Homo sapiens: one gene and its partners. The protein of the gene in region 1 interacts with the protein of each later gene in a pairwise test. Each region holds a gene or a part of one and is shown in the gene's direction. Other genes may lie near its edges.

Region 1 (7,000 bases):
CACTGCAGCCTCCACCTCCCAGGGTCAAGCAATTCTCCTGCCTCAGCCTCCTGAGTAGCTGGGACTACAGGCGCACACCACCACGCCTGGCTAATTTTTGTATTTTTAGTAGAGGTGGCGTTTCACCATGTTGGCCAGCTGGTCTTGAACTCCTGACCTTAGGTGATCAGCCTGCCTCGGCCTCACAAAGTGGTAGGATCACAGGTGTGAGCCACAGAGTCTGGCCTCAAAAGTTAACAAAAATTATTTCCTAACCCATCCTTTCTCCAAACATTCATTTCAGGAGGAGAGTCTAATTGAAATAGACCTCATTAGCAGGAGCTGATTTTTAGGTCTTGTCTTTTTTTTTTTTTTTTTGGAGGCAGACTCTCACTCTGTCACCCAGGCTGGAGTGCAGTGGTGTGATCTCAGCTCACTGCAACCTCTGCCTCCCAGGTTCAAGCGATTCTAGTACCTCAGCCTCCCAAGTAGCTGGGATTACAGGCACACACCATGACGCCTGGCTAATTTTTGTATTTGTAGTAGAGATGGGGTTTCGCCCTGTTGGCCAGGCTTGTCTTGAACATATGGCCTCAAGCAGTCTGCCCACGTCCGCCTCCCAAAGTGCTGGGATTACAGGTGTGAGCCACCATGCCCAGCCTTGTGTTTTTTATTTTTTACTTCCAGAATGACTTGCAGTTGTTTTTATTTTATTTATTTATTTATTTTTTATTTATTTACAGGCACACACCACCACACCCAGCTGATTTTTGTATTTTTAGTAGAGACGGGGTTTCACTGTTTTGGCCAGGCTGGTCTCCACCTCCTGACCTTATGATCCACCTGCCTCGGCCTCCCAAAGTGCTGGGATTACAGGTGTGAGCTACCGCGCCTGGCCCATCAGCTATTTTTATCAGAGGCCAGGGCTCTAATTGACTGGGGTTGGTGGTAAGAGGAGAAGAGCACAGGAAAAATTAAAGGAGTAGAGGCCATACTCCCCTTCTATTCACACCATAGTGAGACCCTGTTTATATTGGCTTTCTAGACCAAAGTTGAAGTTTATCTTTCGAAGCTTCTGATAGATTTATTTCTAATTGTACTATTTCTTTGAGACAAAGTCTTGCTTTGTCACCCAGGCTGGAGTACAGTGGCACAGTCATAGCTCACTGAAGCCTCGAACTCCTGGGCTTTAGCCATCCTCTCACCTCAGCCTTCTGAGTAGCTGGGACGACAGGTGCACACCACCAATGCCCAGCTAATTTTTGTATTTTTTATAGAGACGGGATCTCACCATGTTGCCAATGCTGATCCTGAACTCCTGAACTCAAGCGATCCGCCTGCATCGGCTTCCCAAAGTGTCGGGAGTACAGGCATGAGCCATCGGGCCCAGCCCTACTTCTGATTTATAATAATTGGTTCAATGATGGTGGGACCCTAGAGACATATAACAGGTAAAGGGGTTAACCAGGAAGCATCCTTTACTTGTTGATGCCTGAAGGTTTTCTACACTGAGACTCTTCACTTCATTTATACCTTTTTGTCCCACCATCATTCTTTCTGTCTTTTTTTTTTCTCCCCCTAAAGAGACAAGTGTTTCCCAGCCTGGGCAACGTAGTGAGACCTTGTCTCTACCGAAAAACTTTTTTAAAAAAATAGCTGGGCATTGTGACATGTGCCTTGAGTCCCAGCTACTTGGGAAGCTGAGGAGAGGAGCATCGCTTGAGCCCAGGAATTCGAGGCAGCAGTAACCTCTGATCATGCCACCACTCTCCAGCCTGGATGACAAAGCAAGAGCCTGCCTCTTAAAAATTTTTTAAATAAAAGACAAGCCGGGTGCGGTGGCTCATGCCTGTAATCCCAGCGCTTTGGAAGGCTGAGGCAGGTGGATTACCTGAGGTCAGGCGTTCAGGACCAGCCTGGCCAACGTGGTGAAACACTGTCTCTACTAAAAAATACAAAAACTAGCTGGGCGTGGTGACAGGCGCCTGTAATCCCAGCTACTTGGAAGGCTTGAGACAGGAGAATCGCTTGAACCCAGGAGGCGGAGGTTGCAGTGAGCTGAGATCGTGCCATTGCACTCCAGCCTGGGTGACGAGCAAAACTCAAAAAAACAAATAAATAATAAAAAATAAAAACTCGGGGCCCACCATGGTGACGAATGTCTTTAGTCCCAGCTACTCAGGAGGCTGAGGTGGGAGGATCGCTAGAGCCCAGGAGTTTGAGGATTGCTGGAGCCCAGGAAGTCAAGGCTGCAGTTAGCTGTGATGGTGCCGCTGCACTCCAGCCTGGGCAACAGCAAAGACCCTGTCTCCAAAAAGAAAAACTGAAAAAACAGGAACTTACTTTGTTGTCTAGGCTGAACCCAAACTCTTGGGCTCAAGTGATCCTCACACCTTGGCTTCCTGAGTAGCTGGGACTATTAGTTTATGCCACCAGGCTTAGCAACCCTACCATCATTCTTATGTTTGGTTATTTCCCACATAATCTTTACTTGATAGACCTTTCACTTCACATTCAGGAAAATATGATGGATCTAGTTTGCTGGTGATAGGCCAAATGACCTGTAACCTGTTGGTATATTTGGAGGGTGGTGGAGGTGAATGGTGTCAAAAATAAAGGTGTGGTTGCTCTTCATGGATCTGCCATACAGTGGGAAAGGTATCTTTTTAGTTTGTGTGACTGGCTGACATACCCCATACTAATCTTGAAGTCCCTTCCCATTGGTTTTCTTTTTGCTTAATTTTTGGAATACTCTGGCATCTGTTACATTATAGGAGAGACATCCAGGAGACAGCAAAAACTATAATGAATGTATCCGGCACGAGACCATCAGAGTTGCAGTCTGTGACATGATGGAAGGAAAGTGTCCCTGTCCTGAACCCCTACGGTATGTGTCAAGCGGGCTTGCTTGGTATTCCTTTCGGGCATTTGGGTAGTTGGCATCTTTGGGGCAGAGTACAGTGTTGGGTACCAGAGGGAGATAGAGAAGAAGGAAAGATGTGGTTCCTGCTTTTAAAGAACAAGTGGCTGAGGGTTACCCAAGAGGAAGTTCAGAGAGCTACTCTGTTGTTGGAGAATGCCATGCCTTTGGGAGAGGCAGTCCACACGCTCAGGGAGCTTCCAGTTTGATGAAGGCTTGGACGTACTTTTTTCCAGCCAAATGTGTAGAGTACTTCATAATAAGACTCATTTCTTAGTGCTGAAGTTATTTTTAAGTGCCAAAACTGGATGAGCAACGTCAGGGTTAAATAAATAAACTTCTAGGAGAATTTTGAGTAAGGTTTGGGATTGGGGATGGCTGATGAAAAGCAATGGAGGTGGAGCAAGTCATGAGTTGAAGTTGGGATTCAAATGGTGAGTATTGGCTTGGTGGTGGCTCACGCCTGTAATCCTAGTACTTTGGGAGGCTGAGGCGGGAGGATCACTTGAGCCCAAGAGTTCGAGACCAGCCTGGGCAACACAGGGAGACCCCATCTCTACAGAAATTTTAAAATTAGCCAGGTGTGATGGCACGCTCCTGCAGTCACAGCCAGTCAGGAGGCTGAGGTGGGAGGATTGCTTGAGCCTAAGAGGTTGAGGCTGCAGTGAGCTGTGATGACACCACTGCACTCCAGCCTGGGTAACACAGCAAGACCCTGCCTCAAAAAGAAAACTAATGGTGAATATTACAGTCACACTCATAATTCCTGATGTGTAGGGGAAGTCAACCACGGGCAGTTAGGTGTTCCTTTTTCCAAAAGGAACTGTAATCCCAGCACTTTGGGAGGCCAAGGAAGGCAGATCACCAGGTCAGGAGTTCAAGACCAGCCTGACCAACATGGTGAAACCACATCTTTACTAAAAATACAAAAATTACCCGGGTGTGGTGGCACGCACCTGTAATCCCAGCTACTCAGGAGGCTGAAGCATGAGAATCACTTGAACCTGGGAGGCGGAGGTTGCAGTGAGCCGAGATTGCGCCACTGTATTCCAGCCTGGGCAAAAGAGCGAGACTCAGTCTCAAAAAAATAAAAAATAAATAAAATGAAAAGATCTTTGTAGAAAACAGATCTGGACTTGGGAATGGTAGGTATTTAATTTGGCATTAAGGTTAGGTAAAGAGGCCAGGTGTGGTGGCTTGCGCCTGTAGTCCTAGCACTTTGGGAGGCCGACGCAGGCAGATCAGTTGAGGTCAGGAGTTCCTGACCAGCCTGGGCAACATGGTGAAACCCCGTCTCTACTAAAAACAAAAATTAGCCAGGCGTGGTGGCATATGCCTGTAATCCCAGCTTCTCAGGAGGCTGAGGCAGGAGAATTGCATGAATCCGGGAGGCAGAGGTCACAGTGAGCTGAGGTTGCACCACTGCACTCCAACATGGGCTACAGAGCAAGACTCCATCTGAAAAAAAAAAAAGGTTAGGTAAGGAAGGGGTGACCTGTACCCCTGGGTTTCTCACTTACACTTTTCTGCTTGTTTTCCAGAGGGGTGATGGAGAAGTCCTTTCTGGAGTATTACGACTTCTACGAGGTGGCCTGCAAAGATCGCCTGCACCTTCAAGGCCAAACTATGCAGGTAATACAACCCCTGCTGCTAATTGCAGAAGCCCTACAGCTGGCCATGTAAAAGCCCCCCACAAGCGTGGCATCGACAGCTGTCATAGAATGACACAGCTAAGCCTGGGTTCAGTGGCTCATGCCTGTAATCCCAGCACTTTGGGAGGCCAAGGCGGGCGGATCACGAGGTCGGGAAATTGAGACCATCCTGGCTAACACGGTGAAACCCCGTCTCTACTAAAAATACAAAAAATTAGCCGGGCATCGTGGCGTGTACCTGTAGTCCCATCTACTCAGGAGGCTGAGGCAGGAGAATCACTTGAACCCAGGAGGCAGAAGTTGCAGTGAGCTGAAATTGTGCCACTGCACTTCAGCCTGGACAACAGACCGAGACTCTGTCTCAAAAAAAAAAAAAAAAAAAAAAAAAAATAGCCAGGCGCGGTGGCTCACGCCTGTAATCCCAGCACTTTGGGAGGCTGAGGTGGGCAGATCACCTGAGGTCGGGAGTGTGAGACCAGCCTGGCCAACATGATGAAACCCCGCCTCTACTAAAAACACAAAAAATTGGCTCAGCGTGGTAGCATGTGCCTATAATCCCGGCTACTTGGGAGGCTGAGGCAGGAGAATCGCTTGAACCTGGGAGGCCGAGGTTGCAGTGAGCTGAGTGCACTCCAGTCTGGGCAACAAGAGCGAAACTCGGTCTCAAAAAAAAAAGCTAAAAGCAACCTATATCATTTGAGGGACTGAGAGCCAGAGAGGAGACTGATTTTCATGAAGTCATAGGGAACTCTTTACTTTCCTTGGTCAGTAGCCTCTTTTTTTTTTTTTTTTAAAGGCAGGTTCTCACTCTGTTACTCAGGCTGGAGTGCAGTAGCTGGGTCACAGCTCACTGCAACTCCAAACTCCCAAGCTCAAGCAGTCCTCCCACCTCAGCCTCCCAAGCTGGGACTTACAGGTGTGCACCACCACAGCTAGTTTTTGTTTTGTTTTGTTTTTTGAGACAGAGTCTTGCTCTGTTGCTCAGGCTAGAGCAATCTCAGCTCATTGCAACTTCAGCCTCCCAAGTAGTTGGGATTACAGGCATACGCCATCATGCCCAGCTAATTTTTTGTGTTTTTAGTAGAGACGGGGTTTCACCATGTTGGCCAGGCTAGTCTTGAACTCCTCACCTCAAGTGATCTACCTCCCTCGGCCTCCCAAAGTGCTGGGATTACAGGCCCTGTTTTGTTTTGTTTGGTTGTAGAGATAGGGTCCCACTCTATTGCCCAGGCAACTCCTGGGTTCAGGTGATCCTCCTCCCTTAGCCTCCAAACTGGGAGGCTGAGATTATTACAGGTGTGAGCCACTGCACCCAGCCCATAGTGTTTTGAAGCTAAGATGCGTTCAGCCCTCCCAGAATCTTAGGGATTATATGAATCCTCTATTTAAATTCTGTTCCCAGCCCTGAGGGTTGATCACAGAAACAGTAGCTTAGAGAAACAACATACCTGTAGTGTCACATGTTGAAAGATTCCTATTCAAAGATGATAACCATTGTTCATTCTTTGCCTCTACTGGGAAAAGTGTGCTTTTGCTTCCCATAAGAACTCAAAATTTAGGCTTGTTTTAAGGAAGGAGGCTATCATTGACCAAATTGTAGATAGACAGCCAGGTGCGGTGGCTTATGCCTATAATCCCAGCACTTTGGGAGGCAGAGGTGGACAGATCTCTTGAGGCCAGGAGTCCAAGACCAGCCTGGCCAACATGGTGAAACCCCATCTCTACTAAAAATACAAAAATTAGCCAGGCATGATGGCTCATGCCTGTAATCTCAGCTACTTGGGAAGCTGAGGGATGAGAAATGCTTGAACCTGGGAGGCAGAGGTTGCAGTAAACTGAGATTGCACTACTGCACTCCAGCCTGGGCAACAGAACAAGATTCTGTCTCAAAAAAAAAAAAAAAAAAAAGACAAAAATTATAGATAGACTAATGTAAACCACCTGGTTGGTAAGAGAATGAGAATTCTCCTGTCCTGGAGAATCAGTTCTTGGGTGTTTGGATCATCTTACTGGTGGTCTTGCTTAGAAATGGGATACTCGTGGGGCCTGGCGCAATGGCTCATGCCTGTGATCCCAGTACTTTGGTAGGCCGAGGCAGACAGATCACTTGAGATCAGGAGTTTGAGACCAGCCTGGCCAACACAGTGAAATCCTGCCTCTACTAAAAATACAAAAATTAGCCAGATGTAGTGGTGCGTGCCTGTGGTCCCAGCTACTTAGGAGACTGAGGCACAAGAATTTTGCTTGAACCTGGGAGGTGAAGGTTGCAGTGACCCGAGATCACGTTGCACTCTAGCCTTGGCGATGGAGCCAGACTCCACCTCAAAAAAAAAAAAAAAAAGAAAGAAAAAGAAATGGGAGACTTGGATAATTGACTAAGATTTCTTAAGGCTCTCTCCAGCTCTCGTACTATGTCTGTTCACCCACCCCAACACCAACAGCGTAGGAG
Region 2 (8,116 bases), on another chromosome or scaffold:
ATGTGGCTCATGCCCACCTGAGAACACTTGTTCTTCCTTCAAGCCCTGCCCATGATGTCACTTCTTCAGGGATGTGTCCGTGTATGGTAGTTATTTGCTTATACTTGTGTCATTTTCCACTAGATTAGTAACTCTCCAACTGGAGCGTGTATCACAATCACTGGAGGGTTTGTTGGAGCACAGATGGCTGGGCCCTACCCCTAGAGTTTCGGATTCAGAGGGTCTAGAATTTGCACTTCCAACACATTCTCAGGTTATGCTGCTGTGGCTGCTCTGGGGCCCACACTTCGAGAACCAGTAGCCTAGACTGAAAACTCATCAAGGGCAGGGGCAACACAGGGGGGTCGTAAAGTCCGGAGACACAGGCAATATTGTTTAATTATCAACCAGCCATGAATTCTGTGTTCACATACATTTCCAGACCTGGTGGTCATTCTGTATATCATAGCAGCAGCCGCCACTCTAGGAGCTAAGTGCTTTATGACATTATCTCATTTATTCCTCACCGCACCTTTATGAGGAGGTTCTATCATCCCGCTTTTAGCAAATAATGGGAAAACTGGTTCTTCGTATGTATTACTCAATGTCACAAAGCTTGTATTAATAGAAAGCAAGCGGGAAGGCGGCCTCATGTGTGCCTGATTTCACAGGCTTTGCTCTTAGCATGATGGCACGGCTGCTTCCCAGCATCCTTGGCACCTTGCTTGGACAAACGAAGTGCTCAGTAAGTTCTTGCTGAATGAGTGAGTGAATGAATGAACGACTGGCTCACCGTTCGTTCCTATTTTCACAGTTCCCACAAAGGTTTATGACATTTGGTTGGTGGATGAGTTAGAAACTCAAACGACTTCAGACATGGATTCCAAGTAATAATAAGAGCCAGACAACCGGAGGAGTTATTTTGTTTCTTTTAGTGTGGATGAGGGAGGGAAATTTCAATGAGCAAATATTGACATTTGCCCAGGAGCAGACAAATGTGTTAATTGTGTGTCAAAAAGCTCTTTCTTTCAGGGTATTTAGGAAGTGACTCTCATGGTATCCACAACAGACGTTTTGCTCGAGTGTGCGTGTGGTTTTGAAGGTGTCATTTACTGGGAAGAGTGGTGGGAGGAGGAGAGAACAAGCGAAAGGTTAAAACGTGGGAGAAACGCACTGCAAGCCTGTATGCACTTACCGCAAGAATCCACAAGAGGGCTCCAGAGCACACATGATGGCCCCACAAGGCTTTCAGGGGGTTTGCTCACAGCGTCTCCCCAGGCTGAAGGCGCCTTCTCGGAGGTGACAGGGCCACCTTTCCCATCCCCTGCCACCTCCCAGCCATAGTGGGTCTGGTAGCTGTCTTTCTGATGCTTAAAGATCTAGCTATGTAACACCCATTCCTGCCCAACAGGAAGTGTTCCCCCGCCCCCTTGTCTCCCTCCTCCGCGTTCCTGCGGAAGCCGCCGCCGGTGAAACTGGCCAGTTCTGTCCCCAAGGGTGCCTCTCTCCTTCCCCAAGGTTGACAGGGAGGGAGACGTGGCAGGACGCTTTCTGCAGAGCCACACCCCTGATAACCCGGTTCCCAAGCTGGGCCCCTGCGGCTCCTCCACCGAGGGAACCCCACCCAGCCGTTGGTCTTCCTTGTTCTGTTCTGGAAGCTTCCTCCAGGAAGGTGCGAGAATGTGCAGGCAGGCAGTCCACCCACGGCCCTGGCGCGCCTACGGGCTGCTCAGCGCTTCTTGAGGGGTTGCAGGGAGGCAGAGATCAGAAGCCCAGGTCTCTGCCCCGCGTGCTTCCAGGCTGGGCAGTGAGACCCCGGTGAGCCTCCAAGGCTGTGCTGGGTCTCTGGGATTCATCAGTACAGACCCCAACCCGAACTGCGAGACCCCGGAGGAGGGGCCCTGGGAGGGGCGGGGGAGCCACCAAAAGCAGTTCTGTTGTCTCCAGAAGGCAGACAGGACAGAGCACAGGAGTGCTGGGGCAGCAGTTCTGGTACAGTGACCCCACTAGCTCTAGGCTTAGAAAGGCAGATAACACCCCAGAACAGTAAAGAAGGAGGCGGCCGAGGAGAAAAGGTAGTGAATGTGCTGGGCTTCAAAGAAGCCCATTTGCAGGTGAGGAAAACAGGCTGGATAGTCAAGTAATTTGTTCAGTCAGTGAGTTACTCAGGGATGGAGCTGGGCTTCCAAGTCACACAGGTTATCGTTAGCCAGGCATGGTGGCTCACACCTGTAAGTCCCAGCAACTCAGTAGGCTGAGGCAGGAGGATTGCTTGAGCCTGGGAGATGGAGACCAATCTGGGCAACATAGCAAGACTCTGTCTGTAAAACAAACTAAAAAATTAGCTGCATGTGGTGGTGTGTACCTGCAGTACCAGCTACTTGGGAGGCTGAGGAGGGAGGATTGCTAAAGCCCAGGTAGAGGTGGAGGCTGCAGTGAGCTAGTTCATCCCACGGAGCTCCCTTTGCTGCCCCTAGTTGGCATGTTCTGCGAGGAAGAGAGACCCATGTGGATGCAGTTCCACTGAATGGGCAGTGAGCCAGTCAAGTTAGTGGCCACCAAGACTGTATGGTAGGGAGTGGGGATGGCACCAGAAAGGTGGGGAGGACCCGTGTGTTTGGAGACCATGAGTAGGTGCCTGGGAAGCTTGGACTTGATCCTCTGAGCAATGGGGACCAGTGATTGTAGAGCAGAGGAGAGACGGGATCGCAGAGGTGCTTTCTGTGGAATCCTCCCTCCCTCACGCCACCTCACGCCTTCCCCATTGGAGTTGTTTAGGTGAGGCTTGCTTCTCCTCTTCTGGGCTCGCAGAGCAAGAACTTAGATTTGGCAAAGGGAATTTATTATCTCTGGTCCATCCGCCTCACCTGTCCTTGCTGTAGCTCTAAGATCTTCATGCTACCACATCTCTTCCGCCTTGGTCCCCCAGCTAAAGGCATGCACCCCACACCGACCCTCCCTTTGGCTTCTCATGCCCCTGAAGCTACTCAGATCCCCCAGAAACATTCACATGTCTGGCTCAGGCTTCTCGAAGGATCCGTGGGACTCGTCTGCGGCCCTTGCCCTCTGCCTGCCAGAGAGGAAACCCGCCCAGCAGGCCCATCTGTTGGTCGCCTGCCTTTTCCAGCTGCCTGAGGATTGTGGGGGCTTGGGCTGGGGTCTCTGTCCCCCTCCCCGGCCTCCCTCTGGGATGCTGTAATCTCTTGCCTCCACTCCTTTCCTCCACTGGCTCCGCAGGGTCAGAGACCCCCAAGAGCCCCTCATCTTGGCTGACTGAAAGCAGACTCTCCCCCTGCCTGCACCTGGCAGCCTTGCCAAGTCCTGGAGAGCCAGGGCAGGTGAGTTGGGCTTGATCGGTCCTGCCTGGCACTGGGCCCTCATCCACAACTTGTCTGCCCCTTCAGCAGAGCAGCTTTCCTATAGCCAATGCAGGGCTGGCCTGACATCTCAGCTGGGCAGGGGAACAGTGGGAGGTGACCAAGAGTCCCCCTCCCCAAGAGTGCTGCTGAGCTGCGCCTGCTGCCCTAACCCCAGATTCCTGGCTCCAGCCTGGCCTGCCCTGGGGTGGGAAAGACAGTCCCTTCAGTAGCTCTCTAGGTCCCTGTCTTCCTCCAATGCTGTGGTGTGTGTGAGTGGGGTGTGGAGCCACAGCCTTCACACCAACCAGCCAGGTTCCTCCCAGGCCCTGGGAGGGAAGTCTGTGCTCCTGTTCCTTCCGTTGCACATTCCTTTACAGATAAGGGCTTCAGTTGGTAAAAATGATATATGTACTCAGATCACACTAAGAGAGACCCACTTGTATTGGAGTCAAGAGGCTTAATTTTTTGATCAAGTTGTTCTAATAATAAACAAAAAATGCAATCACCAGGTGAGTGGGGCCTTGCAGACACCCTTTCTCTAGCTCCTGCTTCTTGACATATTTCTCTATTCAGAAGTGACTCCAGAAGCTCATCTGGTTCAGTCCCCAGTTTCCAGGTTTAAGGGGCAGATGGGACTGAGACCAGCGAGCCTGCCTGGAGGTTGAGGTGGGAATCTTTTGGTTTTTTCCATCTTTCTGATCCTGTTTATGAAATCAGTGTTTTTATTACACTTGCCCATTGTCACAGAGAATCCGTGGATAGAGGAAAACTGAGAGAGATGTGGATAAAGGGAAACTGAGGCAGAAAGCAATCTTTGTCTAAGCAGAAACAGAGCTACGACCCTATTGTCTGAAGTCCTTCCTTCTGCCTCTGATCCTGAATAATACAGAACCCAGGTACCCCGTAGCTTGGCTAGCATCCTTGCTCAGGGTTATCAAGACCGATTTGGGCAGGAGCTAGAGAAAGGGTTTCTGCAAGGCCCCACTCACCTGATAATTGCATTTTTTGTTTATTATTAGAACAACTTGATTAAAAAATTAAGCCTCTCGACTCCAATACAAGTGGGTCTGTCTTAGTGTGATCTGAGTACCTATATCATTTTTACCAACTGAAGCCCTTATCTGTAAAGGAATGTGCAACGGAAGGAACAGGAGCACAGACTTCCCTCCCAGGGCCTGGGAGGAGCCTGGCTGGTTGGTGTGGGGGCAGTGGCTCCACAACCCACTCACACCCCACTCATCCTGGCATCTCATAGTGGCCCCCAACCCTCTCCAAATGTTATTTCTCTAAATTCACCATATTGGGGGGGGGGCGGGGGATGGGGAGGCCCCAGGGCCCCAGCCAAGCCCTCTTGACACCTAGAGACGTGCCCCTCTCTGGAGTAGACAGCCACAGAGGTGAAAGGTGATCACCAGGCTGGCTGGGTGAGGCCCCACACATGATTCTAAGACCCTGGGCAGTTTCTGGCTCCCTGCAGTCTCTTGTGGGGGACTCTAAAAATGCAGCTTACCCAGACGGTGGCCCTGCTCCCCTTTGGGGGGCAGCCTTCTCCTGGTGGTGGAAGGCCCAGGAGGCTGTGCTGAGCCACCCCATCCTCTCCCGGGCAGGCAGGCTGCGTGGATGGTTAGCAGCTTGTCGCTGGTGTGGATGGAGTTAAACCTTTTCGGGGACTATTTACTCCTGATCCTAAGTGACAGCTTGGGGAGGGAGAGTCACGTGGCCCTGAAATCCCCGGGGGAGCCGATGGAGCATGCCCAGCTGCCTCTGCCTGGGAAAGATGCTGGATCCTGCAGTAACCACAACAGCATCCTCTCCCTGCGCCAGGGACCTGCCAGCCGGAGAGATGACTGATTAGATCAGATTAGATCCGGAGCCCCGCTCTGCAGAAGGGGGCCCCAGGGGCGGGGGAGGAGGACCCCAGCTGGCCTGAGCTGGGGGGAGGGGTGCCTTGGGGCTCGCAGAGTTAGAGCTTTCCAGCGCGGGGATCACACCTCAGAAGCCGGTGAGTCTGTTTTCATGCATCACATAGATGAGGTGGGAGGAGGAAGGCTGGGCTCTGGTCAGGGCTGGCAGCTGCCTGTCTGCCGCGTGAGCCTGGGCTGCTTGCACTGCGGAGCACTGGCTTCCCCATCTCTCATCCTTGGCAGCCTTACTTGGGGATCATGGATGCTGAGAATGCTAATTATAGCCCTCCCTGTGCCCCCACCCCCACCTCCAGAGTCCCCTGTCAGGGCTGATGCTGTTTAAATTGATTACATTTGAATTGCATCTCCTGGATGAAGGCAGCGTTGGGGCTGGCAGCTTCCTAGGGTCCAGCAGGGGTCCCCCACGCAAGCTAGCACAGAGAGGCCAGCCCACCCTCCCTTTAATCTTGCCAGCAGGAAGGAGAGAGGGAGGGGGTCCAGGGTCAGGCTCAGGTCAGCCCCAGGGACTCACCTTCCTCAGCGTGGGGAGGGGTCAGGGTGTGTATCATTCTTATGAGTCAGAGGTTGGGTCGAAGGGTGACAGAGGCTCTTGGATTCCAATTCCTAGGACGCATCTGAGCTCTGGGGGTCTCAGATTTAGTGGGGAGCTCTTGAAGGAGCTGGAGCCTGGTATGTGGTAGAGGAGGGCAGGGAATGAGGGGATGGCATTTATAATGATGGGACCAGGCTGCAGCCAGCTAAGAGCCTCGAGGTATTGTGTGAGGAGTCTGAGGAAAGGAGGACAGTTGGGGGACTGGCCAGAGAAGGGTAAGGAGGGCTACAGTGGAAGGGGAGGGAAGCGGGGCGAGACAGGAAAGTGGCGGGGGTGGGGGAGAAGGGAGAAGAAGGGAGAAGAGGCTCCTGGGAAATGCTCTTTGAGACAACAGGCCAGCCAGGGCAGGGAAGGGGGCTGTGGAGCCTGGGAGAGCAGAGATGGAGAACCGGGATAGAGGGAGAGCCATCCCCGGGGCACAGGGGTGGGGAGGGAGAGCTGCAGGAGGGTGGAAGGTGGTGGGGAGGAGGCTGGAGCTCAGAGCTGGTGTCAGAGGAGGTTGCAGCCTTCAGGGATTGGAGGCTCTTCCCAAAGCCCTGTAGACCCTTTACCCTCAATCTGATCACTTGAGTGGTGCACTCTGCTGAGGGTCTCCTGCATGGTGGGGCAGGGTCCTGGCTGGCAGGTATCTGCCTGAGCCCACTGTCTGGGCAGGTGCGGGGGCACTGCGGGCACTTGCCCTACAAATCTCCCAAATCCTGTTTTCCAGGCCACCCTGGAAGAGTATGAAACTGAGGAGGGCTCCTGTGGCTAGGACGGTTCAGTCGCCAGCTTTCACCCCCGAGCAGCTGCATTTTAGCTTCAGCAGGACATGAGCAGACCCTGCTGGTGGAGGGGAGGTGGGAGCGGCTAGGCTCTGGCCTGTCTCCAGGTTGGGGTGGCAGGAGGGGCTGAAGGCACCCCTCCTGGCACTGCCACTGGGCTTTCCTTATGGAAACAAGCGAGTTTCTGTGTCTTTGCACAAGGGCACAGAGTGCCGAGCCACAGATATGAATTATTAAAAGTCATTGGTTTTCCAATCAGCGGCGAGGTGATAAATGTGTTAGCACTGGTGTGTAATTAATCCTGGCAGGCTGCTGCACACAGGCTGCAGACAATGGGGGTCCCCACCTGCTTTTTTTTTGCTGGGCTAGGCTTCTTTTCCTCCTTCCTAGGAAGGTGATGGTGCAGGACGCCTTACACAGATAATTACTTTGAATGTGTCTGCCTGGATTATTGAGTTGGATTATTTCTGCTTGTAAATGAAATAATTACTGATCCCTCAGTCAGTGAGGGAGGCAGCCACCTTGGCTCCCGGGCTGACATCAGAGCCCCCACCTCGCCCAGACCCAGCCTGCAGCCTCGGGCTCATAGAGCGAGCTCTCTTGGCCCAGGGGACTGGCCTAGGCCAGAGTGAAGAAGCCGCAACAGCAGATGGGAGCGTGGTGTCAACTGGTGCTGAACAGGCTGCGGTTCCGTTCTCCGAGCCAATTTCCTCATCGTCTTCCTCACTGCCTGTTGTGAATTTGATGAGGTCATTGGCACTGGTCTTGGCGCACCCATGGGGCCCCCCAGAGGAAGGTTGGAGCTGTGCCTCACAAAAGAGCTGCAGGATTCGCACTCCCCTGAGCTCTGGGGTGAGGCGAACGGGCTCAGGAAGCCAGGGCTTAATGAGGGGACTTGAGCAGGCCAGTCTCCAAACACTTAAAGCACATTCAGAGAGGAAAAAAAGACTATATTTTGGGAGACATTTAGAGTAACTGGGAGCAGAAGGAAAAGAAGTTGAGGGTAGGCTGAGTGGAAGCCTTCCCTTGACCATCTGTCTGTTCAGGGGGCTCCTGCTCAGCACCTACAACCTTCAGACGCCCCTCAGAGACTATCTAGTCCAGACTCCCTCCACATCCAGATGAGCCTTCCTCAGCCTCCCTGACAGAAGCAGCAGCCTCACTTGGATAATTTCAGTGACAGGGAGCTCATTACCTCACAAGGCAGCTTCCTCTGTGGCTGGAACATTCTTCTATGTTGAATCAAAATCTGCCGACTTCTAAGTTCCACCCTCTGGTTCTGATTCTTTGAAGCTGTGCAGAACAAGTCACCTCTCTCTTTTACGTGGTCATAAAAATAGTTTTCTTTTGATTAAAATAGTATATAATAGTCCGTGTGTGGATGTAATATATTTTACATGATCATTTCTATATTGGACATTTAGGTTGTTACCTTATTTTCCTTTTACAGATAGCACAAGAGGAACATTTTTGTTCATAAGGCTCTTTCTGTGTTTT
Region 3 (5,650 bases), about 27 Mb from region 1:
ACTGCTCATGGGCGGGTGCAGAAGACTGAGCTAGGCACGGAAGTTTGAGTTGGAGGCCGGTAGATGAGGGCCATGTGGAGGAAGGGAGCGACAGGGGCAGCCAGTAGCACCAGGGGAGCCAGGATTTTGCAAGAGAGAGGGAAAGGGACATGGGGGTGCCTGTCCCTGGGGGAGGGTTGGGTGCCCTGGGAGAGCCTGCCCTCCGGCCTCCTGTGTTCCTGTGTGAAATGCTGGAGGCTGGGGGCCCGGAGGAGCTCTGGGCTTAGGAAGATCTGAGGACTTTGACCAAATTATCAACTTCTCTGAGCCCGTTTCCTCCTCTGTGATGTGGGGATAGTAATGGTCCCCATCTCAGTGCATTGCGGGAGGAGCAGAAACAAGGTGGTGAAGCTTTTGACCAGGTGCTGGGAATGGAGCCCCTGGGACCTGCGTGGTTTGTCCTGCTCTCATGAGAGCACGGTGTTTTGATTCCCAAGGGACTCAGGGAGCGCAACCGAATAGGGGTCCCTTCCTCCCCTCTCAGTCTCAAAACTAGGGCCAGGGACTGGCCGGATCCCCAGAAGAATCTAGTTTATCCAGCAAGTAACTGCCCACTTGTCAGACAGCTTTGGTGCTTTGGGAGGTCCCTGCAGTCAGCTTCTCAAGCCCCAGGGCCTCCTGGGCCACTGACCCCTCTGCAGTGAGACAGGGACCAACGGCTTTAGTGTTTGGGGTCCTCCCTGCGAGGCCTCCTGAGCCAGCATTATCGCTTTCCTGTATTGATGGGTGGGGGGTTAGGCCCAGAGAGGACAGGTGCTTGGCCTCAGCTTGCTCAGCATGCAAGAGGTAGAAATGGGAATGGAAGTTGGGTCCTGAGCCCAAGGCTTCCGCTCTGCTCAGGCACCACCCTGCTGCAGATTAGGAAGGACTTTGTCTGGACCCCCCCGGGGCACGGCCCCAACTCTCCCTGGGTTAGACCGAGGCCGGTGCTCTGGAGGCTGGCCTGGGGTGGCGTGGGGAGGGGCTGCCTGGTGTCTGCAGGCATGGTTGGTTGTCTGAGAAAGGACATCACAGCCAATCCTGGCCTTCTCTTGTTGCTTGTCCCGTGGGCCCGCACCACAGGCCCAGCTGAGAGCCAGCCTGGAGGTTACCCAGCAGCAGGCCACCCAGGCCGAAGGCCAGCTACTAGAGCTGCGCAAGCAAAGCAGCCAGATCCAGGTACGAGGCCTGTGCCTGCCCGCCCACCATGGCCTCACACTGCATCCTGGGGCGGCCACCAGCTGGTCCCTGGAACACCAGGCAGCAGGGAGCGGGGCTGAGCAGGGAGCTGGGCACAGGGGTCCTGGGGAGGTTCCCGGGACCCTGCCTCCCCACATCCCTGACCCTCAGCCCAGCAGGCAGCCCTGGCCCTAGCCTCCCTTGGTATGGCACAGGGCCCTGGCCACCCTGAAGCCCCTCCTGTTCCCGCCCAGAACTCGGCCTGCATCTTGGCCTCCTGGGTCTCCGGCAAGTTCAGCAGCCTGCTACAGGCCCTGGAAATACAGCACACGACAGCACTGAGGAGCATCGAGGTGGCCAAGACGCAGGCGCTGGCACAGGCTCGAGACGAGGAGCAGCGGCTGCGGGTCCATTTGGAGGCTGTGGCTCGCCATGGCTGCAGGATCCGGGAGCTCCTGGAGCAGGTGGATGAGCAGACCTTCCTGCAGGTGCGAGGGCTCAGGGCATAGGTGGCGGACTTGCTTCCCTGCCCCTCAGGCCCAGGCTTACTTGTTCTCCCTGGGGCTCAGGAATCGCAGCTCCTCCAGCCCCCAGGGCCTCTTGGGCCACTGACCCCTCTGCAGTGGGATGAAGACCAACAGCTGGGTGACCTGAAGCAGTTGCTAAGCCGGCTGTGTGGCCTCCTCTTGGAAGAGGGGAGCCACCCTGGGGCACCAGCCAAGCCTGTGGACTTAGCCCCCGTGGGTAAGACTGACCCCAGGCCTCCCCCTGCTGTCCTGGGTCCAGCTGCCCCTCCCGCTGGGGGGGTGGAGGCGGGTCAGGGCCCACACATCGTGACCTCTCCAACCATTCCCTTAACACTGCTTTGCCCCCTAGAGGCCCCAGGTCCCCTGGCACCGGTCCCAAGCACAGTTTGTCCACTGAGGAGGAAACTCTGGCAGAGTAAGGAGGCCGTTCGTGTATGTGTGCCCCTGTGTGTGCGTGTGCAAGGAAGTGCCTGTGTGTGCTGTGAGCACGTGTGTGTGTGCATGTTCGTATGCACGTGTGAGTGAGGGGGGCACTTGTTTTGACTGTCCTGCCGGGACATCTGAGCCTGGTCCCACCCGCTGCACACCTCGTGCACATCCACCCTGAAGCAGACGCAGCCAGTGTGCGTTGAAGGACAGAGTCTGGGGCACAGACCCGTAATTCTTCCACTTAACACTGAGTTAATGGCTCTCAGAGCCCCAGTTTTCTCAGCTGTGAACGGGGCTGATAGAGGATTCCGCCTGCGAGGTCGTGGCGAGGATTAAGTGCTATGGTGACGGCCGGTGCTCAGCGTGCCTGGCGGAGGTTTAGCAGCGGATAAATGGAGATCTGGTTGTGCTGTCTTCCCCCAGCCCACTGCTGTCCTCCTTTCCCCAACAGATTATCGCAATCTGACCTTTGATCCAGTCAGCGCCAACCGTCACTTCTATCTGTCGCGCCAGGACCAGCAGGTGAAGCACTGTCGTCAGTCCCGGGGCCCAGGCGGGCCCGGCAGCTTTGAGCTCTGGCAGGTGCAATGTGCCCAGAGCTTCCAGGCCGGGCACCACTACTGGGAGGTGCGCGCGTCAGACCACTCGGTGACACTGGGCGTCTCCTACCCGCAACTGCCACGGTGCAGGCTGGGGCCCCACACAGACAACATTGGCCGGGGACCCTGCTCCTGGGGGCTCTGCGTCCAGGAGGACAGCCTCCAGGCCTGGCACAACGGGGAAGCCCAGCGCCTCCCAGGGGTGTCAGGGCGGCTCCTGGGCATGGATTTGGACCTGGCCTCAGGCTGCCTCACCTTCTACAGCCTGGAGCCCCAGACCCAGCCCCTGTACACCTTCCATGCCCTCTTCAACCAGCCCCTCACCCCCGTCTTCTGGCTCCTCGAGGGTAGGACCCTGACCCTGTGCCATCAGCCAGGGGCTGTGTTCCCTCTGGGGCCCCAGGAAGAGGTGCTCAGCTGAAGAAGGCATGGGATGGAGCCCTGGCATAGCTGCCACCATGCCTATGTGCCCAAGAGCTGCCCAGCTTCAGCTTGGGGACTGGAGGACCAGCTGTTGGCCTCTCTGTTAACTCAGAAAGAGATGGGAGGTTGGGGGAGGTGAGCATAAACGCAGAGTTCACTGTTGCAGCCTTTTTGAAGGGGACACAGTCTAGGAGGGGGATAAATGGGATGCCCTTGCCCCAGAGAGAACCCAGTTCTAGGTACTGTCTGGGCCTGGGAGGCGAGAGCAGTGCCCAGGGGACTTCTGGGCTTACAGGACAGCGTGTGTGACAAAATTCAGATCTACCTGAACTTGCCTCTGGAGATGATAAGGGCCAAAGGAGCAGTCAGGGAGGGGCGGTGAGCCAGAGTAGTCCCAGGGGGAGACAGATTCCTCCCTCCTCCCCGCCTGCAGCTCTCTTTAATTTTTTGTAACATTTGGAGAGACGTCCGTCCTGTCTTGTAGTCTTTTTATTTTGTGCATCCTTATAATTGTATTCTACAAACAATTTTGTTTTCTGCATTTAAACATTTTTGTGTTTTTAGGAGATGGTCTTGCTCTGTCACTCAGGCTGGAGTACAGTGGCACAATCATGGCTCACTGCAGCCTCGAGCTCCTGAGCTCAAAGGATCCTCCCACCTCAGCCTCCAGAGTAGCTCAGATTACAGTGTTTTCTGAAGTTTCCTGACTTAACATAAGCATTTTTCACATGATTGAAAATTTTCACTGATTGCTGTAGTCATTCTAATGACTATCAAGTTTATTTATCCATTATTGGACATTTAAATTTCTTTCTTTTTAGCTATACAAACATTGATGTGTTTTTTTTGAGACAGGATCTCCATCTGTCACCCAGGCTGGTGTGCAGGGGTGCGGTCATGGGCTCATGGGATTCTCCTACCTCAGCCTCCTGAGTAGCTGGGATTACAGGTGTATGCCACCACGCCTGGCTTATGATGAATATTTCTGAGTGGGATGTTTGGCCACATTTATGGTCATGTATGTAGGCTGTTACCTCAAGTGAGTCACTCAGGGAACAATGAGCACTTGAAGATTTTTTTATACAAAAGGCCACAGTGAGGCCACCTTGAGTCAAGCCGACTAAGGCCCCTCAACCCTGTCACTAAGCAGCACGTGACACTGGCAGGACCTTCATCTCCAGCATCCCACCCCTGGGTGTGGGACTTTGGGGCAGCCGTGTGTGCAGGTGTCGGCACAGGCTAGCTCCTCCTGGTTTGGTGTGGTGTTTGCCATTGCAGAGCAAGCTGCCACGAAGACCCCTGGGCATGATTTTGCTTGTATTTCCGGAAGTGGGGTTGCTGGGTCATAGGGCAGGTGTAATTTTTTTTACTTGAAATGTTCCACTTCTTGTTCTGGGAGGTGGTTCCAAGGGTGTCTGCTTTTGGCCAGGCGCAGTGGCTCACGCTTGTAATCCCAGCACTTTGGGAGGCCGAGGCAGGCGGATCACAAGGTCAGGAGTTCGAGACCAGCCTGGCCAACAAGGCAAAACCCCGTCTCTACTAAAAATACAAAAATTAGCCGGGCATGGTGGTGTGCGCCTGTAATCCCAGCTACTGGGGAGGCTGAGGCAGAAGAATCGCTTGAACCCAGGAGGTGAGGTTGCAGTGAGCTGAGATTGCACCACTGGACTACAGCCTGGGTGACAGAGCGAGACTCTGTCTCAAAAAAAAAAAAAAAAAGGGAGGGCTGTCTGCTTTTTGTAACTTGAAAAACTGGACATCTATGTTATATGTACTCATGGATAAATATTTCACAATAAAACTTTTTAAAAGGATAATACGTGTAATATACATACCCCCAATATATATAATGTTTTTATATTTGTAAAAAAAAAAAACCTCCCACGACGACCCCACCCCGATCACTGCCGTCATTGCAGCCTCCATCTTGTGGCCCTGCTCCTAGCCTGTGGCTGTTTGTTCAAGAGCAGGGCAGGGCCTTGGATTGGCACAGCCCAGGCAAGGACTTTCCAGCAAGATCCTCAGGTGGGAGCTCCCCAGACATGGGAAGGGAATCTGACATGTGCAGCCCCACAGCCAGGAGGCGGGCAGGACCTTGCTGACCAGCTAGGGGCAATGGTGGGAGCTGAAAGCCCAGCCAGGCAGGATGTATTGGCCTGGCCAGATGGCTGTCATTGCTGTCCCCACCTCATAGTCCCTCCTAATCCAAGGCTGCAGCAGAAGCACCCAACGGGCTGAGCCGCGCTCTGAAAGGGGCAGAGAGAGGAAGAGTTGGCCCCTTTCTGCTTCTGAGGTGGGAGGTGTTTGGGGTCATTTATTATGTGAAATTCATCTTCCTATTGGGTGGTGGTTCTTTCTATATTCTGCGAGCGTGTTCTATATTATTAATAATAACCCCTTTTTCTTTCTTTCTTTTTTTTTTTTGAGACAGAGTCTTGCTCTGTCGCCCAGGCTGGAGTACAATAGCGTGATCTC

What was found.
Region 2: the proteins of UBE2Z (region 1) and PLEKHA6 interact in binary tests that used the Homo sapiens proteins (3 or more experiments, as listed by UniProt).
Region 3: the proteins of UBE2Z (region 1) and TRIM65 interact in a two-hybrid assay, tested with the Homo sapiens proteins (one study listed by BioGRID and IntAct).

Annotation. Positions count from the first base shown.
Region 1 is NC_000017.11:48,918,407-48,925,406, forward strand, and holds part of UBE2Z (ubiquitin-conjugating enzyme E2 Z), read left to right. Parts: intron 1-2,753; coding exon 2,754-2,866; intron 2,867-4,440; coding exon 4,441-4,531; intron 4,532-7,000. UniProt on the Homo sapiens protein: Catalyzes the covalent attachment of ubiquitin to other proteins. Specific substrate for UBA6, not charged with ubiquitin by UBE1. May be involved in apoptosis regulation.
Region 2 is NC_000001.11:204,356,918-204,365,033, reverse strand, and holds the start of PLEKHA6 (pleckstrin homology domain-containing family A member 6), read left to right. Parts: upstream 1-5,104; 5' UTR 5,105-5,340; intron 5,341-8,116.
Region 3 is NC_000017.11:75,888,302-75,893,951, reverse strand, and holds the end of TRIM65 (E3 ubiquitin-protein ligase TRIM65), read left to right. Parts: intron 1-1,101; coding exon 1,102-1,197; intron 1,198-1,412; coding exon of another isoform or gene 1,413-1,451; coding exon 1,452-1,685; intron 1,686-1,766; coding exon 1,767-1,941; coding exon of another isoform or gene 1,942-2,073; coding exon 2,074-2,139; intron 2,140-2,604; coding exon 2,605-3,173; 3' UTR 3,174-4,989; downstream 4,990-5,650. UniProt on the Homo sapiens protein: E3 ubiquitin ligase that plays a role in several processes including innate immnity, autophagy or inflammation.